7 linked regions of the Homo sapiens genome follow. The protein of the gene in region 5 purifies or fractionates together with the protein of the main gene of each other region. This does not show direct contact. Each region holds a gene or a part of one and is shown on either strand. Other genes may lie near its edges. The genes, in order: MIDN, GPCPD1, ZYG11A, TBC1D14, ZNF418, UNC13B and PTPN4.

Evidence for each region.
Region 1: the proteins of ZNF418 (region 5) and MIDN purify together in Homo sapiens (affinity purification with mass spectrometry; one large-scale study listed by BioGRID and IntAct). This does not show direct contact.
Region 2: the proteins of ZNF418 (region 5) and GPCPD1 purify together in Homo sapiens (affinity purification with mass spectrometry; one large-scale study listed by BioGRID and IntAct). This does not show direct contact.
Region 3: the proteins of ZNF418 (region 5) and ZYG11A purify together in Homo sapiens (affinity purification with mass spectrometry; one large-scale study listed by BioGRID and IntAct). This does not show direct contact.
Region 4: the proteins of ZNF418 (region 5) and TBC1D14 purify together in Homo sapiens (affinity purification with mass spectrometry; one large-scale study listed by BioGRID and IntAct). This does not show direct contact.
Region 6: the proteins of ZNF418 (region 5) and UNC13B purify together in Homo sapiens (affinity purification with mass spectrometry; one large-scale study listed by BioGRID and IntAct). This does not show direct contact.
Region 7: the proteins of ZNF418 (region 5) and PTPN4 purify together in Homo sapiens (affinity purification with mass spectrometry; one large-scale study listed by BioGRID and IntAct). This does not show direct contact.

What each region holds. Positions count from the first base shown.
Region 1 is NC_000019.10:1,246,927-1,251,817, reverse strand, and holds the start of MIDN (midnolin), read right to left. Parts: upstream 3,236-4,891; 5' UTR 3,158-3,235; intron 1,931-3,157; exon of another isoform or gene 1,929-1,930; 5' UTR 1,522-1,928; coding exon 1,289-1,521; intron 257-1,288; coding exon 169-256; intron 1-168. UniProt on the Homo sapiens protein: Facilitates the ubiquitin-independent proteasomal degradation of stimulus-induced transcription factors such as FOSB, EGR1, NR4A1, and IRF4 to the proteasome for degradation. Promotes also the degradation of other substrates such as CBX4.
Region 2 is NC_000020.11:5,548,128-5,552,350, forward strand, and holds part of GPCPD1 (glycerophosphocholine phosphodiesterase GPCPD1), read right to left. Parts: intron 1-4,223. UniProt on the Homo sapiens protein: May be involved in the negative regulation of skeletal muscle differentiation, independently of its glycerophosphocholine phosphodiesterase activity.
Region 3 is NC_000001.11:52,863,260-52,866,759, reverse strand, and holds part of ZYG11A (protein zyg-11 homolog A), read right to left. Parts: intron 2,780-3,500; coding exon 2,603-2,779; intron 258-2,602; coding exon 193-257; intron 1-192. UniProt on the Homo sapiens protein: Probably acts as a target recruitment subunit in an E3 ubiquitin ligase complex ZYGA-CUL2-elongin BC.
Region 4 is NC_000004.12:6,923,326-6,926,825, reverse strand, and holds part of TBC1D14 (TBC1 domain family member 14), read right to left. Parts: intron 3,454-3,500; 5' UTR 3,437-3,453; coding exon 2,715-3,436; intron 1-2,714. UniProt on the Homo sapiens protein: Plays a role in the regulation of starvation-induced autophagosome formation.
Region 5 is NC_000019.10:57,932,149-57,937,036, forward strand, and holds the start of ZNF418 (zinc finger protein 418), read right to left. Parts: upstream 3,255-4,888; 5' UTR 3,046-3,254; coding exon of another isoform or gene 3,013-3,045; intron 2,988-3,012; exon of another isoform or gene 1,906-2,987; intron 1,755-1,905; 5' UTR 1,675-1,754; coding exon 1,669-1,674; intron 499-1,668; exon of another isoform or gene 348-498; coding exon of another isoform or gene 282-347; intron 1-281. UniProt on the Homo sapiens protein: Transcriptional repressor. May play a role as regulator of the ubiquitin-proteasome system and autophagy-lysosomal pathway.
Region 6 is NC_000009.12:35,304,654-35,308,876, reverse strand, and holds part of UNC13B (protein unc-13 homolog B), read right to left. Parts: coding exon 465-4,223; intron 1-464. UniProt on the Homo sapiens protein: Plays a role in vesicle maturation during exocytosis as a target of the diacylglycerol second messenger pathway.
Region 7 is NC_000002.12:119,982,390-119,985,851, reverse strand, and holds the end of PTPN4 (tyrosine-protein phosphatase non-receptor type 4), read right to left. Parts: 3' UTR 953-3,462; downstream 1-952. UniProt on the Homo sapiens protein: Phosphatase that plays a role in immunity, learning, synaptic plasticity or cell homeostasis. Regulates neuronal cell homeostasis by protecting neurons against apoptosis.

The sequences.
Region 1 (4,891 bases), about 57 Mb from region 5:
GGGCCTGAGTGTGGGGTCGGAATCCTGGGCTGGAATAGGGGGTGGAGAGGGCCCTGCTGGCTGGCGGGGTGGGGGCCCCAGGTAGTGTGTGTGCGGACAGGTACCGAGGGAGGGGCTACTGCCTGTGTGCGGGGGCCTCTGGGGGCACGCAGCCCCATGGCCATTTACCATGAGGCCCGCTTCCACGGTGGGTACCAAGGTCAGCTTGCTGCCATCACCCACGCCGAACTCCTGCAGCTTCCCCGAACTGAGCCGGCTGGGGGGAGGAAGGAAGAGCATGAGACTCCGCGGAGACGACACAGGGACGCGGAAGCAGAGGCCGCGGGGGAGGGCTGTGCTTGTGTGGGGAGAGACGGATAAGTTCCCACCCCCACCCCTTCCCGGCTTCCAGATCCAGGGCCCTAAGCGCGTGCAGAGAGGTCTCCGTCTGGTGCTGGGAGCCCCATCCTGGCGATTCGGACCCCTTCCCTCCAGTGGAACCCCCGCCCTGGACTCTGGCACCCCCTCTGCACCCCAACCAGGCACTTTCTCCTCCTCTGGGCCCCAGTGTGCTCTATGCCACCTTCCCCCACGACCCCAGGGCAGCCCCTGCCCCCAATTCCCTAATTCTAGTCCTGGCTCCTCTTTGTAGGAACCACGGGTTTCGGCCCGAGGAGAGGCCCTGGGGGTTGCGCCGGGCCGGGCTCCCCCTCCTCCTCCCTCCCCGGCGCAGGCGGCCGCCGCCGCGCAGACAAAGGAGACCCTCCCCCTCCGCCCCTCCCCCGATGGGCCCCTCCACTGGGATGGACACTGCGTGTCCCCGGAGGCCCGCGGGGGGAGGGCTCCGGGCCTGCAGGCGATTTAAATACCAGGGGGGAGGGGAGGCTGCGGGGAGCGCTCGGAGGCGAGAACAAAGGGGGGGAGAGAGACGCAAGTGGGGGGAGACAGCCAGACGCAGAGGAGGCCGCCGAGCAGATGCGGAAGCCGGCGCGGACGCAGGCGGGAGGGGGCGGTGGCGGCCCCCACACCCGCAGCCGGGACCCCCGCAACGCCCTGGGATTCCTGCCCGCCCCCAAGGGGGGCCGCCGAAGCCCGGCCCGGGACGCCCTCGCAGCCGCCTTTGTGCGGCGACCCCGGGCGGGGGAGGGGGCCGAGGCAGGCGAGGCCGAGCAGAGGGCGCCCGAGAGCGCGCGGCGCGCCCCCGCCCCCTGTCTGGCCGCCCCCTGCCTTCCCCGCGCGGCGCGCTCTTTGTTCCCGCCCGGGGGCCGGGGCCCGAGGGGGCGGCCGGCCGGGGGCGCGCGGTACCTACGTGTCTTTGTGGAGAAGAGCCAGGCGCTCCTTGGGCACTTTGAGGCGCTGGGACAACCGCTTGCGCAGCCCCTCCACCGTCTCGTCGGGCGGCACGGCCAGGTCGTAGCGGGTGCCCGTGGTGCTGTGGATGGCGAGGCTCATGGGCGCCGCCTCGGCCGCCGGGCCCAGCTCGCAGGCGCCGCCGGGGGCCCCGCGCCGGCAGCTCCGGGCGCCGCCGGGCTGCGGCTCCATCCCCGGCGCGCGCTGGGGGGCTGGGGGCGGCGGGCGCCGCCAATCCTCGCCGCGCCTCCGGGACAGGGGCGAGAGGCTCCCCGGATGCCGGGTCCTCCGGGCACTCGGGGGCGCGGAGCAGCGCGCGTCCTCCTCGAGAAAGTCCCGGCCGCGGAATGCGAGACCGAAATCCAAAATCCGAGTGGCGCTCCGAGGTCGCTCCGGCTCCTGGGGGCGCCTTCCGGGGGTGGGGACGGCACTTGCTTCTCCTTCAAAGGGCGGCGGGCGCGACCGGGACGCGGCGCGGTTAAGGGTCCTGGGGAGGGGGCGCCGCTCGGCTGGTGGCGCTGGGTGCCGTCTGCCGCCCGGGTCGCGCTTCCTCGCGCGTCCCCTCCCTTAGCAACAGCCGTCGCCGCCGCTCGGAGGATCTGGGGGTGAAAGTAACAAGAAAAAAAAGTTATAATGTATCAACGTTCCAGGGGGCGGGGCCGCCGCCCCCTCCCATTCACTACTTACTCCGCCGGCCGGGCGCCGGCCAATCGCCGCGCGCCGAGCGCCCAGTCGGCCGCGAGCCCGGGCCTATGAGAGCCGCCGCGGCACCGCCCCACGTGGCAGCCGGGCCCGCCCCCTCGCCCCGCCCCCAGCGCCCAGGCGACCAAGGGGAGCGCAGCGGGGGCGGGGCTGGCGCCTCTCCGCGCCCGCCCCCGCCCCGCCCGCGCCCGCAGCCATTCATAAGCGCCCGGAGCCCGCAACAAAGGGCGGGCGCGCCCCGGGGGGCGCGGGACCCAGGTCTGGAGACGGGTCTGGTACCCCTCGCGATCCCAAGGGAGCGGCCGGGAGCGGGAGGGGGCGCGGGCCATTGTTCCCGGCGCCGGGAGGGGCAGGAAGTCGTGGGGCCACCCCGCCGCCTTCGTCCGGGAAAAGCCGCGAGCGGAAGCGGGAGCGCGAAGTCCGCGCCTCGTGGCCGGGGTCCCGGGGCGGGCGGGCGACGGTGAGGCTAGGGCCGCGGCCCCGGGGAGGGCGTGGTGCGTGGGGGCGGAGTTGTGGCCGGGGCGGGGCGCCCGCACCTCGGTGACGTGGCCGGGTGGCTGCCGCCGGGGGCCCCGCGCGCCCACCCGCCGGCCGCGGGCAGAACCCGTTTCCCCGAGGCGCGCCCGCTCGAGCCGTGACGTGACGCGGCGTCCCCGGCTGCGCCCGCGCGCGCTCGGGGATGCGGTGAGTCAGCAGCTCGGGCGCGCCCTCTGCCGGGCCCGCCTGGGAGCGCCGCCCGGAGTCCCGGGGAGGGGGCGCCGCGCTGCCCCTGGCAGGGGAGGAAGACGACTGGGCTGCGCGCGGGGGAGGAACCCCGATCGGGAACGAAAGACTGTAGTCGGGAGACTGGGACCGTGTGGCTGGGCAACGGAGGGCGGAACGGCAACCAGTTCAAGGTCACCCGCGGTGAAGGGGGAGTGCCCCGGGGGGCGGGGCGGGGGCTGAGGTCCGGCCAGGGCGGCGCTGGCTGCGCGGAGCCCCTCCCACCCCGCACCCCGGGGGGCTTCCCAGGACCGGAGGCTCCCCGATCCCTCCTGTCCCAAGAACAAAGAAAAGTGCGGGCATCCTGAGCCATCTAGAGTGGGCACCCTTCCTCGGCCCGCAGGTCCCCCCCCTCCACACTCACCGGGCGCGGCCGGTTCTGCGCTCCAAGTGCTGCGAGTACCTTCGTCCGGGGCCGAATGCGCGCTGGCCGGGCCGGTCTGGGCCAAGCGCGCGGCCCTCAGCCTTTATCCGCGCCGCCTTCCCTCGGGGTGGAGTTAGGGCGGGCAGGGGGGCGGGGGGCCGGGCGGGCGGTGACGCAGACTGGCCCCCGCCCCTGCCTGCCGGCCCTGGCCCTGGGGCGCCTTGACGGCTGGGCCACCCGGGACCCAGGCTTGGCGCAGTTCATGGGGGGACTCCCCTTGAATGCCCCGAGCCAAGGGTCTCGGCCCGCCTCGCCGCGGGCTGAGATGCACCCCGAATCGTCAGCGGGACAGGGTTTTGGGGTGTACAGCGCGACTCGCTGCCCCGCCCCCTTCCTGTCGCCCCAGGCCCGGTGCTTCCGCCTGGGGGCGCCCGCGTGGGGGGGACGGGAAGAGGGGCCTGAGTCAGCGGCTGTCGTCCAGGAAAACAGGCTGGAGTCACCTGCCGTAGAGTGGGGGTGCCCTGGCCAGCCCTGGCCTCCTGCATCTGTCAATGGTGACCTCAGAGGGCATTTATGGAGCGATTAGCCAGTGCCAGGCCTGCCTTGTGCCCAGCCAGTCACCAGCCGGCTATGCTGTGACCCCGGGAGGTAACTGGCCTCTCCAAGCCTCAGTTTCTCCAGGGTGGGTGGGAGTGTGGTGAGGGGATGCGGCAGGATCACTTTGGGGCCATCACCCCCCATTAATGCAGGACATGCACTGGTTCCCAGCCTTTGGGGTGGGCATTACCCCATTTTACAGATGAAGAAACTGAGGCCACAGCCAATGAGACACGAATGTGGTGTGCATCTCACCCTTCCCCGTCGGCTTTTTGAGGATGGTCCTGGTTGAGGTGGGCCCCGTCCTGCCCCTCTATTTAGAGAAGGGGACCCCATTCCTACGGGAGCACCTCCTGTCCACTCATCTGGCCCCTCCCTTTATCTGGCCTGACCACCTCCACCCCCACCCTGGCCATGGGCGCCCCTCCCAGGGCTGCGCTCCTCCCCAGGTCTCCTTCCGGCTGCCACCCATGCTCCCGGCAGCCGTGGCCCCCACCTTGACAGGCACACCCAGCCCCGAAGGGTCAGGGCTAGGCCAGAGAGGGAGAGGCTGGGATAACCCTTGGAAGGGGGTCACAGGGGCTGCGGTTTGAGGAATGACTAGGAGTTTGTCACATAAAAAAGATGATGCGGTCGGGCGCGGTGGCTCACGCCTGTAATCCCAGCACTTTGGGAGGCCGAGGCGGGCGGATCACAAGGTCAAGAGATTGAGACCAGCCTGGCCAACATGGTGAAACCCTGTCTCTACTAAAAATACAAAAATTAGCTGGGCATGGTGGCATGTGTCTGTAGTCCCAGCTACTCAGGAGGCTGAGGCAGGAGAATCGCTTGAACGCGGGAGGCGGAGGTTACAATAAACCCAGATCGTGCCAGGGCACTCCAGCCTGAGCGACAAAACGAGATTCCGTCTCAAAAAAAAAAAAAAAAAAAAAAAAGGCCGGGCGCGGTGGCTCATGCCTGTAATCCTGGCACTTTGGGAGGCCGAGGCGGGCGGATCACGAGGTCAGGAGTTCGAGACCAGCCTGATCAACATGGTGAAACCCTGTCTGTACTAAAAACACAAAAATTAGCCAGGCGTGGTGATGTGCGCCTGTAATCTCAGCTACTTGGGAGGCTGAGGCGGGAGCATTGCTCGAA
Region 2 (4,223 bases), on a different chromosome or scaffold from region 5:
TCTAGTTTACTTGTGATCTAGCTTAAAGTATTTGCCCTCCAACTTGCCTTTTTTTAACAAATGGAAATCTATAAAAAACTGACTGCTCTGACTTCAAAGTCACTAAAGATCGAGATAAGAAGACTGCTTACCAGCGTGGGAACTACTCTAAAGCTGCTCAATAACGTCAGACACGTCCAGAGTGGAGAACTCTGAAAGAGCCTCTGGTGACCTGACACTGGCACTACCCATCAGCAGAGAAAAGATGGCCTCCTGTGCCTGAATGTGACAGCCAGGCAACTATGTAAGGCAGTATCAGAGAATCTTTATGACATCACAGTAGGAAAGAATTTTTTCAACACGATAAAAAATATGGTGACTCTAATAAATATCTGACTGTATTAAAACAAAGAGTTTCTATTAATTATTAAAGACATATCTAAGAGAATGAAAAATGACCTCTGGGTCAAGGTATCAAGACAGAACAGAAGCATCTAACTTCGTTCTCTCCCTATATTCCATTAAAAATAAAACAAAGATTCTTTTCAATAAAATCCGTAAGTAAGAGAAAAACCCAAGAGACAAAGCTACAACATTTTGAAAGCTGGAAAACAGATGGATAAATAAGAACTGAAAGTTTGTCAGTGAGAGAACTGAAAAGGCTGGCTCCCAGGCCAGTGGTAGGAAACAAGAGCAGAGTTAAAAGCAGGAGCAGATCGATGTAAGACGGCGGACTGTCAAACCAGAAACCACCCCTACTCCTAATCCCCCTGTGAAGAGGAGAAAACAGAATCTAATCAGGAGGTTGCTAACCCAGAACACTATATTAAACATCCTCTACAGAACAGATGGGCACTCTGGTTTTTTTAAAAAAGATAAAAGCAAAACTTGACAAGCAAACCTGCCGCTGATCTCTAAGTTTGATCCTGTTGACTTTTGGGCTCTGTACAACCATATCCAGTTGTCTAGTAATTTAATGTCTGGCTGTGACTACTCACTTTTTAAGGATGGTGTTGAGCCCATGTGGGAAGATGAGAAAAACAAACAGGGAGGATGATGGCTAATTTACATTGAACAAACAGCAGAGATGAAGGGACCTCAATCACTTTTGGCTAGAGACTCTACTGTGTCTTATTGGAGAATCTTTTGATGACTCAGTGATGATATATGTGCAGCTGTTCTTAATGTTAGAGCTAAAGGTGATAAGATAGCAGTATGGACTACTGAATGTGAAAACAGAGAAGCTGTTACACATATAGAGAGGGTATACAAGGAAAGGTTAGGACTTCCTCCAAACATCGTGATTGGTTATCAGTCCCATGCAGACACAGCTACTAAAAACAGCTCCACCACTAAAAATAGGTTTGTTGTTTAAGAAGACACCTTCTGAGTATTCTTCTGAGTATTCTCATAAGAGACCAAGTCAAGCAATCGAGATTTTGGAGCTGAATCAAAGCCTCTTCAAAAACTACTAGAGTGGACTGGATTTAAATTTAATTTCCATCCAAATGTTGCTAAGATGTAAGAGAAGTCTCATTCACTGAGGTGGGAGGACTGGAACTCAGGAGGTCAAGGGAGCAGTGAGCTGAGATTGTGCCACTGCACTCCAACCTGGGCAGCAGAGTGAGAGAGAACCTGCCTCAAAAAAAAAAAAAAAAAAAAAAATCCTTAATGACTTCAGGGAAATAGCATGTTCATTAAATGAGAATAGGATGCTAAATATATGGAAAAAAATGCATTCAGAGAAAAAAAGATAGTTCTTGGAAATTAAAGACACAATAGCAGACATGAAAAACTCAACAGAGGCCAGGCACGGTGGCTCACACCAGTAATCCCAGCACTTTGGGAGGACAAGAAAGGCAAATTGCCTGAGCTCAGGAGTTCAAGACCAGCCTGGGCAACATGGCGAAACCCTGTCTCTACTAAAATACAAAAAATTAGCCAGGCATGGTGGCGTGCGCCTGTAGGCCCAGCTACTTGGGAGACTGAGGCATGAGAATTTGCTTGAACCCAGTAGACAGAGGTTGCAGTGAGCCCAGATCGCACCACTGAACCCCAGCCTGGATGATAGAGTGAGACTATCTCAAAAAAAAAACAAACAAAGCAAACAAACAAAAAACATAAAAGCTCAACAGAATGAGTAGAAAGTAAGATTGAGAAAACCTTTCAAATGAAGCAAAAAAAAAAAAAAAAAGACAAAATAGGAGGAAAAAAAAATCAAAAATCTGGTCCAAGAGCTATTTGATTCAAACAAAAAGACTTCTATAAAGAAAAAAATCAAGAAAATTGAAAGGGTCAAAAATCAAAAGAATTATTTTTGAAAAAATTTTCCTGTGTTTAAGAACATGTATTGACAGACTAAAAGGGTTACCAAGTGTCCAGCAAAGTGGGCAAAGCCAGACCCACAAGAAAACACATCTCTATAGAATTCCCAAACTCTGGTAATAAAAGGAAGACCCTCAAAGCTTCCAAACAGGAAACACAGATTACATGTGTGAGAACATAATCAAGGTGGCTTCACACTGAGCAACAACACTGGAATGGTAAAGATGATGGAGAATGTTTCTAAAATTCTAAAGTATTTCTAACATAGAGTTCTATACACAGCCATGATATTTCTGGACATATAAAACCTCAAAAACATTTACCTCCTGTGTCCACCTTTCTTAAGAAGATGCTGAAAGACATGTCCCATAAAACTCATTGAACCAAGAGAGGAAAAGATATGAGCTACAGGAAACAGGAGATCTAACACAGAGAATGGCAGGGCACAGGATGACAGCTGTGCACAATCAACCAATCAGTACTGGAGCAGCCCGGTGGAGAGGCAGACGTATTGAGGGCTATTACTCCGAGAGAGACACTGTCACTCTAGCAGCTATGTTAACCTAAGAACAGAGTGCCCTCATGAGCCTGAACTGGCATATTACTTAAATATGGTCTAACCATGTGCTGATTAAGTTTCCACATTACCTGCAGGATTATAATGCTTTGGCCTACTCCTGAGAACTGGTAACAGGCTACAGTGAGTGTAGAACCAGGAAATACAGGACAGCCCACTCCTGCTATACCTCCTATGCCTGACCCACAGGCAGATGTGCTGAGCTAGAGACCTAGCGGGTCACACAAACAGTTCGGAAAGTTAAGACTAGCATTTAAGCGCACACACACAAAGAAGTACACGCATGAACAGGAAGTATCTAAAGGACACTTGGAATTGTTTCAGGTGCATACTTGTAAATATACCTTATCTGTGTACTGGGTTGCCGCATAAAATAAGCTGGGTGCAAAAAGGTTTGAAAGTCATTGTACTATCAATAATGTTCACAGCAACACTATAAAATAGCAATTACTTGGCAGCAACCTAAATGTTCCTAAATAGCAGTCTAAGTTGTGGTAAAGACAACAATGGAATATTAACAAGACCACGAAAAGGAGTAAGGTATAGCTACATGCAACAATATGTTAATTTTAAGAACATAATTACAAGTTTTATGAAGTATATTTAAAGCTTGAAACTATACAAAACTACAGCTGGGGCAGGAGAATCACTTGAACCCAGGAGCTGGAGGGTAAGGCAGGAGAATCACTTGAACCCAGGTTGCAGTGAGCCGAGACAGTGCCACTGCACTCCAGCCTGGGTGACAAAGACTCTGTCTCAAAAAAATAAAAAGAACGGCCTCTTACTCATCATCCTAAGTGCAAATTTTCCAAACAAAATACCAGAAAATGATATGTAGCAGTTGAGTGTTTGATAATTGAAAACACACTCACACACTCTCACCACACCTCTCTCCAATCCAAAATGCCTCAAAGGCTCCAAGTCACTAATCATTCAAAACCTTCTATGTGATATCTAAATTTGATAATGGAAAAAATAGCATAAGCAGATTATTTAGAAATAGAGGTAACTGCCAGAAGAGCCAAATAAAGATTTGAGGGGACACGGTCTCAGCCAGAGACAATGGAAGAAATAGGTACAAGAAATTATTGGTATTTTATTATAAGACTTATCAAACTATTTGAATTTTAAAACTATATACACATGCTTTTTTGAATAAAATTAAAAAAAAATGTTGAGGGTAAAAACCAACTCAACATAACCCACCTTTCCCCTCCTCAGACCCTATTAGGAATCCAGTGCCTGGCCACCTCCCTGAAACCCTCAACAGTCATGCCCTGATTTACACTCTTGCCTCTGCCTAGAACACAAATCTTGTCAAAGTAAACATAACCACTCCCCA
Region 3 (3,500 bases), on a different chromosome or scaffold from region 5:
TCTTACCCACTATCCTATACTAGAATCACTTTAGGAGACAACATTTTCTAGTAGGGTACTTCTAATCACTTCTCTGTGGAAGATGCTCAACAGAACCTTCTCTCCAAACACCTTATCCCAGCCTTAATCAGGCCTCTGCATTTAATAACCAAAGGCCAACACCCCAGTCAAATGACCAAGTCTTATACTTGCCTGTCAAATGGAACATCCACAAGAATCCTGGAATTGGTTAAGGAGAGAAGACAATTCTTCTGTAACTTTTAGAGAATAAAGAAAAATAATTTTGAACAAATGTAACATTCCATTCTAAACAAAGATTCCATGTATTTGGAAGTATTACTAGTGAGCTTTTCTTATTGAGAGCTCATTTGTGTACCAGCATTAAATTTTCATTTAATGCTGTAACTGATGACTGCCATGCAGGAATGAAGACTTGAGTAGGATTTTCCAACTTTAAAAATAAGGTAGAAATAAATGAGGAAAACCACCTTCCTAACTGTATTTTTAAAAAATCAACTCCCTTGGCCGGGTGCGGTGGCTCATGCCTGTAATCCCAGCACTTTGGGAGGCAGAGGCAGGCGGATCACGAGGTCAGGAGATCGAGACCAACCTGGCTAGCACAGTGAAACCCCGTCTCTACTAAAAATACAAAAAATTAGCCGGGCGTGGTGGTGGGTGCCTGTAGTCCCAGCTACTCGGGAGGCTGAGGCAGGAGAATGGCATGAACCCGGGAGGCGGAGCTTGCAGTGAGCCAAGATTGTGCCACTGCACTCCAGCCTGGGCGACAGAGCGAGACTCCATCTCAAAAAAAAAAAAAAAAAAAAAACTCCCTTTACAAAGTACACATTTGTATTAGATTTCACAAATTTATACCCCTGTGTAACCACTCCTACAATCAAGATATAATACTTCTATCACCCCCAGAGAGTTCCATTGTCCCCTCTTCAAGTTAGTCTCAACCCTGTAAACCCTATCCTCGGAAAATTACAGTCATTATAGATTAGTTTTTTTAAGGTGTTATGCAAATGGAATCATGTACTTCTGCTCTTTTGAGTTTGGCCTGTTTTGCTCAACATATAACATTTTTGAGTTTCATCTACACTGCAGATATCAGTACTTCATCTCTGTGTGCCAAGTAGTGTTTCCCTAAATAGATTTATTACAATGCTTCTATTCGCCTGTTGTTGGACATTTGGGATGTTTCAAGTTTTTGGCAATAAATAAAGGTACCATGAATATTTGTGTAAATATCTTTATATGGATACATGCTTTCATTTATCTTCAGTAAATACCTAGGAGTGGAATGACTAGGTAGTTTATGAAGTGTATATTTAATTCCTAAAGAAACTACCAAAGTGTTCAAATCTTTTGATCATTTTTATAACTGATTTGTACTGTATTAACAAGTTGAGTTCTTTATATACTCTGAATGAAGTTGATTCTCATATATATATAATGAACATGTTTCCCAGTCTATCATCTACCTTTTCATTTTAAAAATGTGTGTTGTGGGGGAGGGAGCCAGGCATGGTGGCTCCCTCCTGTAATCCCAGCACTTTGGGAGGCCAAGGCAGTGGATCACCTGAGTTCAGGAGTTCGAGACCACCCTGGCCAACATGGTGAAACCACATCTATACTAAAAATACAAAATCAACCAGGCATGGTGGCATGCGCCTGTAATCCCAGCTACTCAGGAGGCTGAGGCAGGAGGCAGAGGTTGCAGTGAGCCAAGATCGTGCTACTGCACTCTAGCCTCGGCAACAGAATGACTCCGTCTCAAAAAAAATAATAAAAATAAAAATGAGTGTAGGCCAGGCGCGGGGGCTCACGTCTGTAATCCCAGAATTTTGGGACACCAAGGTGGGCAGATCATGAGGTCAGGAGATCGAGACCATCCTGGCTAACACGGTGAAACCCATCTCTACTAAAAATACAAAAAAAAAAAAAATTAGCCAGGCATGGTGGCGAGCGCCTGTAGTCTAAGATACTCGGGAGGCTGAGGTAGGAGAATGGCACGAACCCAGGAGGCGGAGGTTGCGGTGAGCCGAGATCATACCACTGCACTCCACCCTGGGCAACAAGAAGGAAAATCTCTCAAAAAAAAGAAAATTTTAGCCTCACTGCTTATCTATATTTCCTATTTTTTCTATAACAAACACACTCTTTTATCTATTCTCTTTCTCTAATAGGATGAAAAACCAGAACTAAATAATATCTATTTTTCACATATTTATCCTAAAGTTAGAAAACACAAATTGTCTGCCGTATGCCATGGCTCATGAGGCCAGGAGTTCGAGACCAGCCTGACCAACATGGTGAAACCCCGTCTCTACTAAAAATACAAAAATTAGCTGGGCGTCGTGGTGCACGCCTGTAATCCCAGCTACTCAGGAGGCTGAAGCAGGAGAATTGCTTGAACCCGGGAGGCAGAGGTTACAGTGAGCTGAGATCGTGCCACCGCACTCCAGCCTGGGCGACAGAGAGAGACTCTGTCTTTAAAAAAACAAAAACAAATTGTGCCACGGCACTCTGGCCTGGGCAACAGAGCTGAGACTATTAACAACAACAAAAAAAGCACAAACAAATATTCAATTGAAATTACCTGCTGGTAATGGGGGAAATTTTTCAGAGCCTTGAAAAGTAGACAGGTGACCTCTGACAACAGGCGAACAGGCATCCCCTTGGCCAGGCCCTGGCGTGTTAGGTTGAGAGCGCAAGCACTGGCTGTGAACTGCACTCGCAAATCCAATGGGTGATTCCTCATTCCTATAGCCACAAGCTGAAGATGAACTTGTTTTTAGTGCATATGATGCCAGTAACATTCTCTATGCTGTCTTGTGCATGTTTTGATTGGCACAAATCTTCGTTTATTGGGACAGGAACAGATTTTCCCTATCCTAAGCATTTATTCTTTAGAACATCAAAGTATTACAGCAAAGCCTTCTAATCCAAATGGAGTCACTAACTATCTGTGTGACTTTGGCCAAGTCACTTCCTTTCTCTAGACCTCTATTTCTTTATCTGTGAAATTAACTTCAGAATCATTTATTGAGCCTCACTCCATACAAGCTACTGTGACAGGTACTGCAGGGGACACAAACATGAGTGAGAGCTACTCGTTAGCATAAAGCCTTGTGACAGTAATAACACTGTGAGAAATGCCAAAAAATAAAATTGAAGAAAAGCACCATAAAAGACGCATCAATGAAGTGACATCTGAGGTAGTTATGGAAAGAGTGGCCATTTCTGGGAGAGAATCAGAAGAACTCATTGAGAGAGCACATTTAGGCAGAGTCTCAGGATTTACACAGGAGGAGATAAATGTAGGGGCAGAATGGACAGGGTATTCCTAGGGGAAAGAAAGTGATAAAGAAAAACAGAAAGTGGAAAAAAAGGATGGGATAAATCCACCAACAGAGGAGAAGAATTTGAAAAATGGTAAAACAAAACATTAGGTAACTTGAAGCTACACTGTGGAAGACCTAGAACACAAATGTAAA
Region 4 (3,500 bases), on a different chromosome or scaffold from region 5:
CGATGCCCACAGTCCTCTGGGTACCTGCTGTGGGCCAGGCCCTGGGCTGAATTGATGAACATTCACTGTAACTCCATTTACTCACCTGTAAAATGTTTAGTGAGCTCTAAAGATTCTGGCACAGAAACCCTTTCCCCTCAAAGGAACTCTACATGGAAACTCTTCTCTAACATTTTTAAGACTCTAGGACAAAAGAACCCTAGACTCTGCCCATGTCATCACTTGTTTTAAGTCATTTTTCATTATATTCCATTATCTTCCCAAAGGTAGTTCAGAGAGGCTCACAATAACAATGTCACAGCCATCACAACGAGGATAAGGAACCAAGGAATAAAAGAAGAGACACTTGTTTCCTGCAGCACAAAGCTGAGTATGACTTCCAAGAAACGGTAGCTTTAGAAATGATCTAGAAATTGCATAACCAACGATGCTTCCTTTCAAAGGGGAAGAGAATCCAATATACACAGCTCAGTCAGCTGAATCACAACGGCGGCAGAAAGAGCAACGTGGCCATGATCGCCACAAGCAACTCATACTTAAAAGTTTACTACGTGTCTGGATCTGCATTAAATTTCTCACATGCTAACCCATTTTAATCCCCACTGCCACGGAAGGAAGGGCTCATTATCCCCACTTCTCAGGTGAGGCAGCGGAGACAGAACGTGCGAGGACAAAGGTGAGCGTGTGGCGTTCGTCAACAGCATAATGGGCACACGGGCCACGCTCCTCCGCGCACGGTTCTAGGGGTGAGAAAACTGACTGGGAGGTGAAGGAACTTGTTCAAGGGCACAGAGCTGGACATGGCACAGGTCGGTTGAATTCCAAAGCCACACTCCTTCCACCATGCTGTTTCCCGGCCAAACCCATTTCAAGCAAGGTTTCCCACATTTCTGAAAACCCATCCTCAGGCCCTTCTCGCTGAGCTTCTGATTCTGTATGTCTGGATGGATCCTGAGGTCCGCGTGGAACGGGTACCAGGTGTTGTTCATAAGCAGGGACAGTTGAACACACTCGTCTGAGCACGGGGAAGTTCCGCCACACAAATCTAACCACAGCAACACCGCGATATGGCTACAGCCTCAGAAGGGATAGTGACAAGATCTCCCCCAAAGTTCCCAGGTTCCTCCCACTGAGGGCAATCGCTGAGTTACTGCATTCTGAGACCAGGAACTGTGCTCATGGTACCAAGATACCTATCTGTCAGCACATTCGAGAAGAAAGTTTCCCGACAAAACCACAGACCACACCACAGATCATCTCACTCAGGACTGGCCTTAGGCTGGTCCGAGATGATCCCCTTTAGTTGATGAAGCAACTAAGGCAGTGGTAATGTGTTGGCCACAGTCAGAGTCGCCAGCTGACTCCAGCCGGCACACCACACCATCTCAAAGGGACACCCGGTACTGCAATGTCTGACGTGGGTTCTGCTAGAGACACACACACGGGGCAGCCAGGGTCAACTGCAGAAATGTTCCCACCTGCCAAGCCCCGGCCCCAGAGCCCTCCAAAGAGCAGCTATGGAGCAGATCACGATTCTTTTTTTGTTTGTTTGTTTTTTTGAGATGGAGTCTCATTCTGTCGCCCAGGCTGGAGTGCGGTGGCGCGATCTCGGCTCACCGCAACCTCTGCCTCCTCCTCCCAAGTAGCTGGGAATACAGGCGTGCACCACCATACCTGGCTAATTTTTGTATTTTTAGTAGAGACGGGGTTTTGCCATGTTGGCCAGACTGGTCTCGAACTCCGGACCTCAGGTGCTCCACCCACCTCAGCCTCCCAAAGTGTTGAGATTACAGGAGTGACCCACTGCACCCAGCCACAGATCTCAATTCTACACGTACTCTCCACAGCCCCTGTGCCCTTCCTCCCAGCACGCCACCGTTCGGGAGTTCACATTTGCTTGTGTGACGAAGGTGTCCACTCCCACCACCCCCAGGCCACAAGCCCACCCTAAGTCATGACCCAACATCGTTTCTCTCACCGTATTACCCCACATGACCAGCCTAGAACAGGGCCTAGGAAATAGGCACTTGTTGAACAAAAGCATGAGAGCACAAACGAGAGGCAGAAGCTGAAGGCGCGGCCCCCCCAGGGCTTCAGGGAGACACAGGAACTCCAGCACTCAGGTGACAAGGCCCCATGGGGACGGAGTGCATGGCCAGGCCCAGCACGTTGGGAATGCATGGGGCTGCAGTGCAGCAGAGCACACACCTCCACAGCAGAGGCAGGGCCAGGACAGGCACACGAGAGCACAGCCATCCAGGGGCACGGGGACACGGCTGGAACACCCGGCATGCCAGCACTGCACTATGCCAGCAGGGGCTGGCAGTAGAAATGAGAGTTACTCACTGGCGTCACCCTCACCAGTGCCCTCTGCTTGGCCCAAGAAACGTTAAGTTATGAGTGCACAGGGCCCCGCAGAGGCTCAGGCTGCTGATTTGGTAACACTGGCCACCTGTGGGACAGCCACAGCAGGTCAGAGGCAGAGATGTGACAACAGACTGCAAATGAGCCAGGGACACCGAAGAACAGAATCCCCAACAGACCAGTTCTCACAATCCCACAGGATTCCGGGCTTCTGGGAAAAGACCCAATTATCTGTGTGAGACAGTGCCTGCCTAACACCACAGAGAACACACAACACATTTGAGACAGGAACAAGGAGACTGGTCTGGACTCAACCACCACGATCTTCTAGAGGGCAAAGATGGCATTACCTTGCAAAGAAGTTACTAAATGGCCCCAATATTTTCAATTTACTCCCCTCCTCAGCTTCATGAACACAGTCCTGCTGGTGTAAGCCACGGGTTTCCTTGATAGAGCTCAAGGTGACGTTGGTAAACTGTGGGTCATCGTCATTCTCCAGGGTCACAATGGCACTGGAGCTGCTCGTGACCACAAGGTCCAAGATGTCCTCATTGCTGACGGACAGCGTGGTGGACAGCTCTGTCCCAAGACTGGACACGCTGCAGACGGAGACATCATCGCTGCGGGTCAGGGCTTTGGAGGTCGGGCTATAGAGCTTTACCGAGTCATAGCCTGTCCTGGGAAACGTGGAGGATTTGCGCACGCTCTGTTCCCGCTCGGTGCTGCTAGGAGCTGGTGGCGCACAGGATGGCAGCGCGCAGGCGCTCTGGAAGGCCCGCTCGGGGATGAGGTCGGAGTCGGACTGCTTCCTCCTCACGTGGACCGCGCTGCAGGGTACAGGCTCCGGGTTCCCGATCTCCAGGGTAGGAATCCCCGAGTCCACGGACTGGAGGCTGTGCCGGTCTTCTAAAGCCCTGAGTTTCAGCTTGGGCCCGTACTCAGGCGCGGAGAGGAGTCGGGGCGCCTTGAGATTGACGTGTTGCAGGTTCTGAAGGGGGTTTCCTGGTCGACCATCCAGAATACCCATGAAGGCTACGCCATTTGTAGAGGTGGAGAGTTTTCCATCAGTCATCTTGGTCCAAGGAGAAACTAGAAAAAACACAAACATGGAAATTAAAGTGGATATAAAATTCAAA
Region 5 (4,888 bases):
CTTAAATAATTCTGAGTAGAAATGGAATTGAAACCCAGTACAAAGTATAATAACCAGAAACTGTGCCTGATCCCTTAATGAAAAGGGTTGTTAGGCCAGGATACATTATCCAATAGAACAGAGTGGGAAGGGGATTTGTGCTCAGGCCATTTGAGGTCATACAGTATCACCACACACCAACGTTGCACATCACATTGGCCTTTCATTTTCGGCCTTATGCCACAATGTGGCTGACAGAATTCAGAGTATGCTTGGCAAATTCAAACAGGATCCAATATTACCACAGAATTCTCATGGCTCCCAATAGCAATGCAGTCCCAAGTCATTCTATGAAGGCCTTCTTGCATGGCTCCACATCCCCACAGAACCAGGTGGGGCTTTAGATATCCATGGCCCTATTCCACTTCTGTGTTGCACTTGGTGACCCCTCTACAATGACGACTTTCCTCTGTCCACCTAGAGTCATTTAAATCCCACTCCCTTGTTATGGAGAATGGTCTAAGAAAAGTGGAAAACAAAAGAAAAAAATAAATAAAATCCCAGCCCATCAGCTGTCCACCCCAGGCCCAATGTCTGTCACAGATAACCAAATTTACCCTGAGCATGTATCCACCAGGCCGAATGAAAACCCCCAAGCACCAACAAAGTTTTCTCAAAATCTTGGTGAGTCCACAGAGTGGTGAATAAGTACCAGCCTTGGCCCAAGTGTCATCTTCCTTCAATTATTTCTATGCTTCTGCTTACATCTCTTATCTATTCTACCCTTGGAAAGCCTATGCCCCCTGACAAACCATGTTGTCTGACATACCCTATCTTCATGAGCCCTTGCCTCCTTCTCCTGTGGCAATGTCAGCCAGGGACCCAAGCAAGAAATTCAGCCCTCAGCCTGCAACCACCCCTTCCTGGCCCCCACAAAAGATTTACCATGAAAATTTGAAGTGTGTCAATGTCATAATGGAGGCTAAACTATCTCAGACTCTTAACATGGTCAAAACAACATTCTTCACATCCCCAATGAATATTATACCTACTATGTGCTCATCTCAGTTGATGCAGCTTCCATCACTGCAGATGCTAAGACCAAAAACCTGGTGGTCATACCTGATTCCCCTTTCATGCCCTCACAGTCTATTAGAAAATCTAGTTACCGACCGGGCTTGGTGGCTCACGCCTGTAATCCCAGCACTTTGGGAGGCCGAGACGGGTAGATCACGAGGTCAGGAGATCAAGACCATCTGGCTAACACGGTGAAACCCCATCTCTACTAAAAATATTAAAAATTAGCCGGGCATGGCCGGGCTTGGTGGCTCATGCCTGTAATCCCAGCACTTTGGGAGGCCGAGGCCGATGGATCACGAGGTCAGGAGATTGAGACTATCCTGGCTAACACAGTGAAACCGTCTCTACTAAAAAATCCAAAAAATTAGCTGAGCATGGTGACGGGCGCCTGTAGTCCCAGCTACTCGGGAGGTTGAGGCAGGAGAATGGCGTGAACCCGGGAGGCAGAGCTTGCAATGAGCCAAGATCGTGCCACTGCACTCCAGCCTGGGCGATAGAGCGAGACTCCCGCTCAAAAAAAAAAGGAAAATCTAGTTGCCATTTTACAAACTGTGAATCTTGAATCCAGCCACAGCTCCTTACTCATTAATATGGTCCAGTAACCCTCACCTGCATTATGGCAGGAGTTTAAACTCTGATCCTCCTTCCTCCTCCCTCAAACACAGTGTGTTCTCTTCTTTGCAGCCAGATGATGCCTGCAGACAAATGGGACTGTGGTAACATCACCTCCTCGCCGCCCTCTTGCCTCCCCACCGAATTTTTACCTCTAAGCATTTCATGACCTGGTACCAACTCTGTAGTTAACCTTCAAAGTATGTTTACATGGGTTGACAGAAATGGGAATACCTCCATACATCCTGTGTCATGGACTTAGGATTCTGGGTTTAGGGTTTCTCCAGTGTTCTCAGATCAAAGGACTGAAAAAATGGCAAGTAAGAGTCCCAGGACATCACAAGCTAGAGAACATGTGAATGGGGAATAAGGCCAGTGAGGGAATGGAACACCCTCTAATTCCCTCTGTGGGTTCCTTTTTTTGAGCCAGAGTTTCGCTCTTGTTGCCCAGGCCGGAGTGCAATGGCTCACCGCAACCTCTGCCTCCCGAGTTCAAGCAATTCTCCTGCCTTAGCCTCTGAGTAGCTGGGATTACAGTCATGCGGCATCACCACGCCTGGCTAATTTTGTATTTTTGTTAGAGACGGGGTTTCTCCATGTTGGTCAGGCTGGTCTCGAACTCCCGACCTCAGGTGATCCGCCCGCCTCGGCCTCCCAAAGTGCTGGGATTACAGGTGGGAGCCACCTTGCCCGACCCCCTCAGTGGGTTCTTTACGTGCTTTTGTAGCCAGGAGTGTCTGAGGGGAAAGCAGACGTTACAAAGGGGATCTGATAAGCTCAGGTCTCCTTGAACCTTTTCTTATCGCTGGAGCCAGGTGACCTCAGACTGGTTGACCTGCGTGTCTCAGTGCAAAATGTCATCTCTACCACCTATGTGATCTATCAACAAAGGAGTCAACCTCCCAGAACCCTAAGGTCCTCATCTCCTCTACTATGTTCTTCCTTTGGCCTTTGGGAAACCTTAAAAGCCTGGACTTGGATCGCATCCCTCCTTTCTTCGAAACTCTCCATGGCTTCTAGCGTCTTCACAGCGAATACACAGCCCCCAGCCTGCTCTTCCAGGAGAAGCTTCGCCTCACACGTTGTTCCCTACAGGCGCCTGTGGACCCCAGGTTCCATCCTCCCGGGTCTGTCCTCCAGGCCATAGCCCGCGCCGGTCCCTGTGCCTGTCGCTCTCCCCACCGCATCCCACAGGTGTCAGAAACAAGGACCTCTCCCGCGAACGCCTCAGTGTCCCGACGCCGGGTCCGGGCTGCAGACCTGTGAACAGTCGCCGCTCTCTCGCTGCTTCAGGATTCGGGTTAGGATGAGGTGACCTGAGGGCAGGGAAGGCACAATTACCTGAGCCGGGAGCCTCAGCGCGGCCGCCGCCATCCCGAGTACGCGGGGAAAGCACTGCCGGGAGCGGCGGGCGCCGTTACGGGGCCTAAGATCTGCCTCTGTGCAGCAAGAAGGACTCTTCACCTTCTGGGTTCAGACACCGCGGTTCGGACCCATAGCTCCAGCGCCTCTCACCTCACAAACCGCAGAAACACACCCAACATTAACCAAAATGGTCGCTACCAGAGAACGCTGAGAATCCCGCCACTACGTTACGTGCGCACACAGAAACGCCTTTATTCTGAGCCCTTACTGGTTCTGTTGCGCTGTCATTCAATGTAGAGCTTTCTGGGTAATGTAGTTCCCCAGGTTCCAAGGTAGTAAAGCTGCCGCTTCCCAAAGGCGCTTCTGCAGGGAAGTCCCAGCCCTACCTCAGGGGGTTCATTAAAGCGCGTACCCTTTTAGGGCAGAGGATGGTCTCGCCCCTCCTTAGAGGCCATATTGAGATTCCTGGGGAATCCCTGTTTGTAACTGACCACCTAAGTGTTTGCAAAAATATTAATTCACATTTCTGTAAATTCAAGCTCCCAGGCGCTAAAAATACTGTGAAGGCCCCCAAAGGCTACAAATCCAAATTCGTGTATCACTTTATACAATCGTTTAGACACAGAATGCTTGCACTGGAAGCAGAGGCTGATAAACATTACTCTGTTATAATTCACATGAATGCACTCTTGTTACCGGATAGAATGTCTTGGCTGTGAGTTGTCCAGTTGTTGGCGCATTGAACAAAGAAGTGAACAAAACACACAAAAAAAGCAACGAAAGAACGGACCAATGAAAGCGCAGATTTATTGAGGGGAAAGTACACTCCACAGAAGTGGAATGTAGGTGTGGGAGCAGGCGACCAAGCGGCTCAAGAACCCCGATTACAATGTTTTTTAGGGTTTTATTAGGTTGGTGCAAAAGTAATTGCGGTTTTTGCCATGAATAAGCTAGAATTTTATAATACCCCAAGAGTTCTTTAAAGGCCTCCAATCCTATGAAGGACTGGTGCACAACCAATCAGAGGCTGAAGTGGAGACTTCTGTCTTGTTACCACAGGAGTGAGGACGTGGCCTGTGTGCTGCCTCATCTTGCCTAGAACTAGCTGCACCTGCTGTTCTTTTGCTTATGCCTTCATTCTTGGTTACCCTAATTCCCTATTCTCCTGCCTCACTCTGAGGCATTAGAGTTGGTTTTTCAGTCTGCCAGGGACAAAAGAGAACTAATCCAGATAGGACCATGCCAAGGAAGATAGAGGAGAGGCTAAAGAAAGAGTACAAAGGTCAATCAGTCGTTCCCATGGAAAAACAACTCTCCTGCTTATATAGTCAATTATTGTGTCCAATTCATTCAGCAAAACATTTATTCATGTAATATCCCTTACTTGGTATTCTAACTTATATTTTCAACTCATTTTAGGAACTTGAAGTCAGTCTCAGGTAAAGAACAATGAAAGAGAAATCTCAGCTTGGTATTGGTAATGGTGGTGATAATCTCCACCTGGAGACACTAGGCGTATGTTAAATTATCGAGCTTGTTATCTTTCCTGGGAAGTGATTATCATTTGTTTCTCTTGTGACAGCGGGGAGTGTTCTGCATGAGGAACTAATATGATACCAGAAAAACAGGTGAAATGCCAGTTACAGAAACTTATTACCAACGACTATCTAATAACTGCGATGACAGAAATAGGTCAATTGAAACATGAGTGGATGGTGAAAAAAATTTACACTTCACAGAAGTTTTTCTTTCTTTTTTTTTTTTTTTTTTTTTGAGACAAAGTCTCGTTCTGTCCCAGACTGGAGTGCAGTGGCGCCATCTTGGCTCACTGCAACCTCCACCTCCCGGGTTC
Region 6 (4,223 bases), on a different chromosome or scaffold from region 5:
AGCATCTTAGAAGACTTGAAAAAACAAAGCAAAATAGATCTATCCCCATCTCCTACAAGATATAAGTGCCTAAGGCCCAAGGAAGCATCCTAGCCTATCATGTAGTTGTAGTTAATATATACCACCAACTACTTACTACCTCTTCCTGCCCTCCTTTCTCCATTTCACATTATACAAGGCAGAGCAAACCAGAGTGAGTAAATATCGGGGGCCCAGCTTTTGCTTTAAGCAGGAAGCTCCTTGTTCCAGTAAATGAATTACATTTGGCAGAGAGAGAAGGGGAGGATGAAAATACCCACACACTGAGTTCTTGTTATTTAACCCCTAATTAACATGAAGCTCGGGTACTAGGAAAGACACAAGAAGGATAAAAAGCAAGCTATGATTAATCTACCACTAAGTCACTTGCATCATAAATGGTCAATTCCTTAAAGCCATTTATGATGCTTGAGTTAAGAACAGGCCTTTTGTTGGTCATGGGCTCCTTGATGTCATTCAGAGTGACTGGCTGCTGTACATTCAAATCAGAGTCAGTACTGGCAGGTACTGCCTCCTCTTCTTGTTTTTCTAGCTGGTGAAATATCTCAGAGACAGTGGAGGGTTCTTCCTCATGTTTCCCTGAAGGACAGGCGGGGCTAGACAGGTTGGCTTTGGTATCCCAGTGTTCTCCAGATGCTGAGATTTCCTGCTGGTTTCCCCCTTCTCCAGACCCTGAAAGCCCCTGAGCACAGACCTCTGGACTGGCCACCAGCTGCTCAGAGGTCCCAGAGGGCTGAGTGTAGACTTTACCTGGCTGAGCACTGGCCCCAGATATTTGAGAAGACTTCAAAGCTTTGTTAGCCTCACTGGAGTTAAGGTCCTGATCACTGCTAGTAACTAAAACTGGAGGGGAGGATTCTGTAGGCATTTGTTCAGGGACCCCTTTGTTCTCTTTTGGCCATGGAAATGAAAGATCTACCTTTCCAAATCCTAGTTTTGAATCACTTGCTAATACACTCCCTTTCCCCTCACTACTTCCCTCAAATAGAGTTGACAACTTCTTAAAACTGGACATTAAACCAGTCTCTGCTGCTCTATTGCCAGAGGGGAGAGGTGAGGAAAAGAAAGAGCTCAGTGGTTTCCCATGGTTAGTAGCAGAGGATGGCAAACGAAGCTTTGGCCAAGTGGTCACATTTGGGATCTCAAAACGTGGTCTTGACTGCTCTGTTTCCTGGGGTACTACAGGTGGATCTTTCTGGGCATGAATTATCTCACAACTTTCTCTGGCAGCAAGCACAGGGTCCTCCAGCAGAGGATGAGAAAAGTGCCCTTCGGTTTCCAGAGTGGTGCTCTGGCTCACACTTGCATCATTGAACAGCATAGTATCAGTTTCTAGTGAACTGGCTGGATGCAGCTCCAGTAAGTCTTGGTTTGTGGAGGCAGTTTGAATAGCTGGCTCTGGCTCAAGAGGAAGAGGTGGCTGAATGGGAGGAGGAAGCTCTTCGGCAATGCAGGTAGGATCTGGATGCAACTGTGCTGGCAGCGCAAAGTTCTCTGCTTCTAACGATGCCTCCGTGTCTGTAGCTTGCAATATCCCCATGTCTCCTTCATCACTCAGAGACAATACTCCTTGCCCAGTATCATCACCCGAGAAAGAAGATGTATTAATTGTTTCAGAACGTTGAGGTTCCAGAATATTTTCAGGAGTATTATTGTCTTCCATTTTGGTTGTTAGTTTAGGATCATCTGTCAAGATATCTGATTCTGGCTTTGCACTAACCACAGTCATTCTACAGTCACTGAGAGTAGATTCTGAACTTAGTGCTGTAAAGGCAGCTTCTCTCCTTTCTGGAGGTACTGATCCTACAGCATCTCTGGAACAACCATTTTGAAGCCATGAAGTAGCTGGGAGAGATGATTCTTGTTTGTATGGCTCTGGCTTGGGACTTTTGAAAATTCCAAATAATTCACCTTTGAGGGGCTGAGATGATACATCAGAAGCAAGAGAGAAAAAGGAGTTTTTCTTTGGAGATTTAGGAGAGGAGAAAAGTCCAGAGAGTGTTTTGGGAGGTTCAATTAAGCTCCCAGAGAAAGATTTCACTTTGGTCACAAACCCTGAAAGCATGTCTACTGAAGAGCCTAATGCAAATTTGTCTTCCTCTTTATCTGCATCTTGGTTCTGAAGGTTCCCTGCACACCCTGGCTCTGGAGAGGAAGAGGCTGGCTCTAGGATCTGTGGTAAGACCTCATCGGGGGCCTTTTCTAATGGCAAGTTCACTGGGTCAGTAGTAAATTTCTCATTTTGGTGGCAGTTAGTACAAGTGTCTAAATCATTGAATTTTTCAATTAACTGTTTAGCATGTGAAAAAGAGTTGGACAGTGAGTCACTGGGGAAGGCTTTGTGGTTGAAAGCCTCTTCTTCATGGGGAGCTATCCCAAGGTTCTCTGGGCCAGTGAGGAATGTTTCAGCCTGTGCCTGAAATTCTGGTGAAGGAGGAATAATGTCTTTTTGCAATTCATTCATCTGGAAATCCACTGATGTCCCTGGTACAATATTGGAACTCAGTTTTTCCTGACAGTCCTTGTCTACACTGAGCTCATCTGCAAGGGAGGTAACCTCAATGGTGTTGTTAATGGAAATACAAGGTGCCATTTGCTGTTCATGAACTACTTCTTGGGCTATGCTATCTCTATGACCACTGGAACTTTCTCTGGTCATTGTGCTACCACTCTCTACAAAAACATTTGTCTTCTTACAGGGCTGGGAGGTCACTGGAACAACAGTTGAAATGCTTTGTTTTTCCCCAGAGGTCTCCTTTTTTTGATCCAAAAAGGACAAGCTGAAGAAACTAAAAGTAGAACTACTATGAGAGGCATCCTTCTTAATGCTTGAGCTAGCAGTGGAAAAAAATGAAGGAAGTGTGAATAGCCCTTCTGCCTGAGATTTGGCTCTTGGTAGAGTAGCAGAGGCTCTGTTCTCAGATTTTTCAGATCCAGTGAGAAAAGAAAATATACTCTTTTTGGTTGATAACTCTGGTTGAGATGAAGATGTTGCAGCCATAGAGAAACTCCAGTCTTTGTCAGAAAAATGATCTTGTTCATTTGAATTTCTCTTGCTCAGGGTATCAAAGGATATTTCATTACTTTTTGAAACTTCTGTCACTGTAGTCACACCACTAGTTTCTACTGAAGACTCCCTGGAAGACTCTTTGAGACTACTTGTTGAAAAAGATGAATTAGGTGACTGCTGGATTAGATGGTCTCTGAATGGTACCTCTTTTTCAGTCAAATCATTACCCTGGATCCCTCTAGTTGATTCCTCTAACCTACTGTCATCGATAGTAGTCTGTTTGTTCAGTCTTCTAACTCTAGCCTTCCCTTTAGAGGAAATTGGTGCAGCAGGAAAGTTCCCAGCACCCTGGCTAGCTAGCTCCATAGGAGTAGGACTTGACCTGACCTCATCCTTAATAGTCATTGAAGAAACAGACGTATTTTCAGTTGTCTGTATAGGAGATACATTGGCTTTAAAGAAATCCCCAAGGGTACCCCAAAAATTTGAAACACCAGAAGATTCTTTCTTTTCTTGAGGTGGTATCTTGACATTTGTATCACCAATCTTTTCTAAGTTTGGTGATCCTTCTTTATTCACCTGAGTCTTAAAAAGATTCAAAAATCCAGATGACTGTTTTTCATTTGCTGTCATACTAACTGACGATTCTTCTTGACTGAAGAGTTTCAATGAACTTTTAAATAATGTTTTATCAGACTCTTTGGATGACTGGCCCTGGGGAAGCTCATAATTCTCACGCTCATCCCCACTATGCTGAGGTGCAGGAGAAACTGAAATAGAGTCTGTTGTAATGATTTCATCATCTTTTACACCTGATTTAGCCTGAGGAGTTGTTTGGCTTACCTGGAAACCAGATTTTAACAAACTTTGCTTTTTCACATGGTTGTTTTTATTTAAAGAGAATTCTTGCCTTATATTTTTGATCAATTCTGGATGCTGAACATTGGATACTATCTGTCTTTCTGAATCCTTAAGAAGACTTTTTTCCACATTTGGGGAGTTACCCTCTAATTGCTTACTCATGATTAATGACTGAAAGCCATCATTTGTGAGCTCTGCTAAATCTGACTGCTGATTCACTTTCTGCATGGCCAAAGCCTCTAAGGATTCACTCTTATCAAACTTCAAAGTACTACCAACTGAGGCACCCAAAACAGAAAATACTGAAGCCACT
Region 7 (3,462 bases), on a different chromosome or scaffold from region 5:
AACAAAACGTGTATGTACACGTACACACAAATGTAAGTACACATTTTTACCCCAGAAGAAAATACCAGAAATTGAATAGAGGTTGCCGCTGGTTTGAGAGGGCTTTTCTTAGGGTGGAGCATGAGGAAGAGGATGTTAAAAATCATTTTGATCTTCATTACAGTGTTTGAATTTTTATTATGTACATAAGAACAAAGGCATGGCATAATCAAAAATCACCTTTCTGCTTTATTTATTACCTGTTCTCTAGGTACTTCTTTTCTTTCAGAGGAAAAACAGCATATCTAACTGCACTTAGGCAAGCTGACTTCAGGGATAGAAGGAGAGGTCCTTTATTTTGCTTGACAAGGTCTTACCTTAGGATTACCAGAATAGAGGGTTGGTACTGGGAGAGGACAGGAGCCAAGCAATGGCCACAATTAAACAGAATCTTCTCTTCACTGTTTTTTTTTTTTTTTTTTGAGATGGAGTTTCACTTTGTCACCAGGCTGGGGTGCAGTGGCGCAATCAATCTCGGCTCACTGCAACCTCCACCTCCCAGGTTCAAGTGATCCTCCTGCCTCAGCCTCCTAAGTAGCTGGGACTACAGGCGTGCGCCACCACCCTCAGCTAATTTTTGTATTTTTAGTAGAGACGGGGTTTCTCCATGTTGGCCAGGATGATCTCGATCTCCTGACCTTGTGATCTGCCCGCCTCAGCCTCCCAAAATGCTGGGATTACAGGCGTGAGCCACCGCGCCCGGCCTCTTCAGACACTATTTAATCTTCTAAATCCCTTTTAGTTCCTCACCTACTCCCTTTCCTCAAATACAGCCACTATGTGAGTCAATAACTCCAGAAATAAATTTTACACTTGTCATTCTCTCCATTCCTGATAACCAGTTACTAAATATAACCACTGTTAGAAAAGCCCATGAAAAACTCCCATAAAATAATCTTCAAAACTTCTGTACTTTAGATTACTAAAGCACATCTTTATTTTGCAATTGAACATTAAGAGTCATAGCTAGAGTTGTTTGTCATGTTTGTACCTGAACAACTGTTTCTCAAAATGAAATATGGCCAACAAAATATGTGTAACAGCATTTCACATAATATAAATTGCTCTTAAGACTAAAACAGTATTAATGCAAACCAGCATTTTTATCTTGTTTGCTGTAGTTGTAATTTTTTTGTACATGAATGGCAGAAATTCTAATTTTTTCACTAAAATTAAGACAAACACACAAGGCCTTTCAAGCATACAGTAAGCTGCAGTGACAAATGCAGAGTGATTTCAAATTATGCAGTGTTGACCAAATTCAAGCTTATACACATTTTAAATAAACCCTTAGCTTCTTTGCCTCAATTATGAGATCATATGGAAAGAGATATTTTTGTGATATAGGGGGAAAGGTAATCTAAAAAACTAAGGGACCAATTCTGTTTTGCCACTAGTTTAATAGAATCAAACATGAAATGAATAATTGTATCTTAATTATGACATAAGCTAGACTTTTAACTAAGTGACTTTTCCCCTTCATATTTACAAATAGCACCTGTTACAAGAAAAAAAAAATCCCAAATTAAAACACCCTCCACATAGAAATAATTATTTTTAAAACTACTACTTAAAAATATCAATAATGCAGATATAGTAAATTATCGGTTCTAAAATTAAGCCTACACTGTAGAGAATAAGGAGTAGCTTTTCTTATTTGAAAAGATTACAACATAGATTACAACTGTAATGTCCTGATGCTGGAGAACACTGGGTTGAACAATTTTTATTTTTTTAAGCAGATAGAGTCTACTGGCAGAAAATAAAAACAGTTTAATGTAAACTGTTTCAGTCTCTTAAATCGTGCCCCTCAACATGTATATAAAGTGTCGGGACTTTTATTCCCTTAAACTTACTTGTGCAGCATCTACTTCACCCTAGGTACTACACTGAAAACAAATGGATTTCTAAGTATTCATGTGATGCACAAAAAAATCCAAAGCAGAAATGATAATAAACCAAGCTTAGATGAAACTAGCTGTGAGAACTCAGAGTCCAGTAACACAGTCAACTGGTTATCCTTTATTGTGCTACATAAATTACAGAAAACCTGCAAAGCTAAGATCACACAAGTTGCTCTTAAACATCAAATAAGCTGTGAAGAGATCATTATATTTAAACCTGGGTCCAATCTAATGACCTCCAACACTAATTAAAATTTTCCCACGTTTACAACACTTCTAGGATAATTTTATTTTAAAATGTATAAATTAAGTTGGTGGTCAGCATGAAATAAAGTGCAACTATTTAAAATTCAAAAAATCAAATTTAGCATTGAAATTTGACCTAATCTTGCCAACTCATTAAAAGATGGGAAAAGACAGGTGCCAGAGAATCCCAGACTTGGGTTAAAATTTTCTTACCCAGGAAGGCAAATAACTTGAACACTACAATTCAGGAGTAGAAACTAAAAAGCTTCTTTGAATATATGTTAAAATGAGCTCAACTGTGATGACAGTGGGGAAGTACCCAACTGCCAATTTGTGGAGAAAGCATGAACCAGCACCTGTTTGGGTCTAAGGGTGTGAGCGGGGCTATCTCCCCCTTGACGGATTCCTGGTAATAATTGTACTTAGCGATGTGGCATTTAAGCTTATCACAAGTAATATTTGCTAAATTTTGGAAACTCCCAGGGTTGAGAGAGCCTGACACCAATCCTTTCAACAGTTATAGCAAAGTTCATGAAAGAAGAGATCACTTTGTACTTGAGTACTTAACAAAGAGTTAAATTAGTGATTTTTAAAAAGTTGGAGACGTGGAAAGAGAAATAAAAATAATGAAGTCCTCACTGAGTCAAGTTTCATGAGTGATGAATAATAAATACCACCTTTTAAAGCAGCTGTTGCACGTATTAATCATACCTACAAAGGTGGTTTAAGATGTAGTTCTTGTTCAGCTGAATTAATATAAACTCGTAAGCATATAAGACATCACTGCTACAATTCAGAGTTGGGCCAAGTTGTCTCAACTGTCCAAGACATTGGGAATAAAAAGGCAAAAAGCATTTACTGGGTCAGGGGCCTCTGCACATACTCACTGTAATGAATCTTAGGCACAGTTTTCTGGCTTCACAAAAGTCACACCCTCACAACAATGTCCTCATTTGACAAAGCCTGGCAACGTTCTCTATGGTAAACACATGCAGCAACACATTTATTACCTTCACACACAAACACCCTTCCACACTCCAAAAGTCTAGAATTCAATTATTTTATACTTACAAACAGTATGTGCAAATTTTCTGAAAAGTTTCTATTCTAGAGGCAAAGCAAAATGAAAAAGAATGTACATTATATCTGAAAATGCTTCAATGATTGCTCTTGTTTATAATGAAAATGTTTTTCTTCTAAAATTACATTTTGTACAATGAAGTGTAATACTCTTCCCTTTCTTTTCAATCCCGTGTAGACTTTAAAACAAATA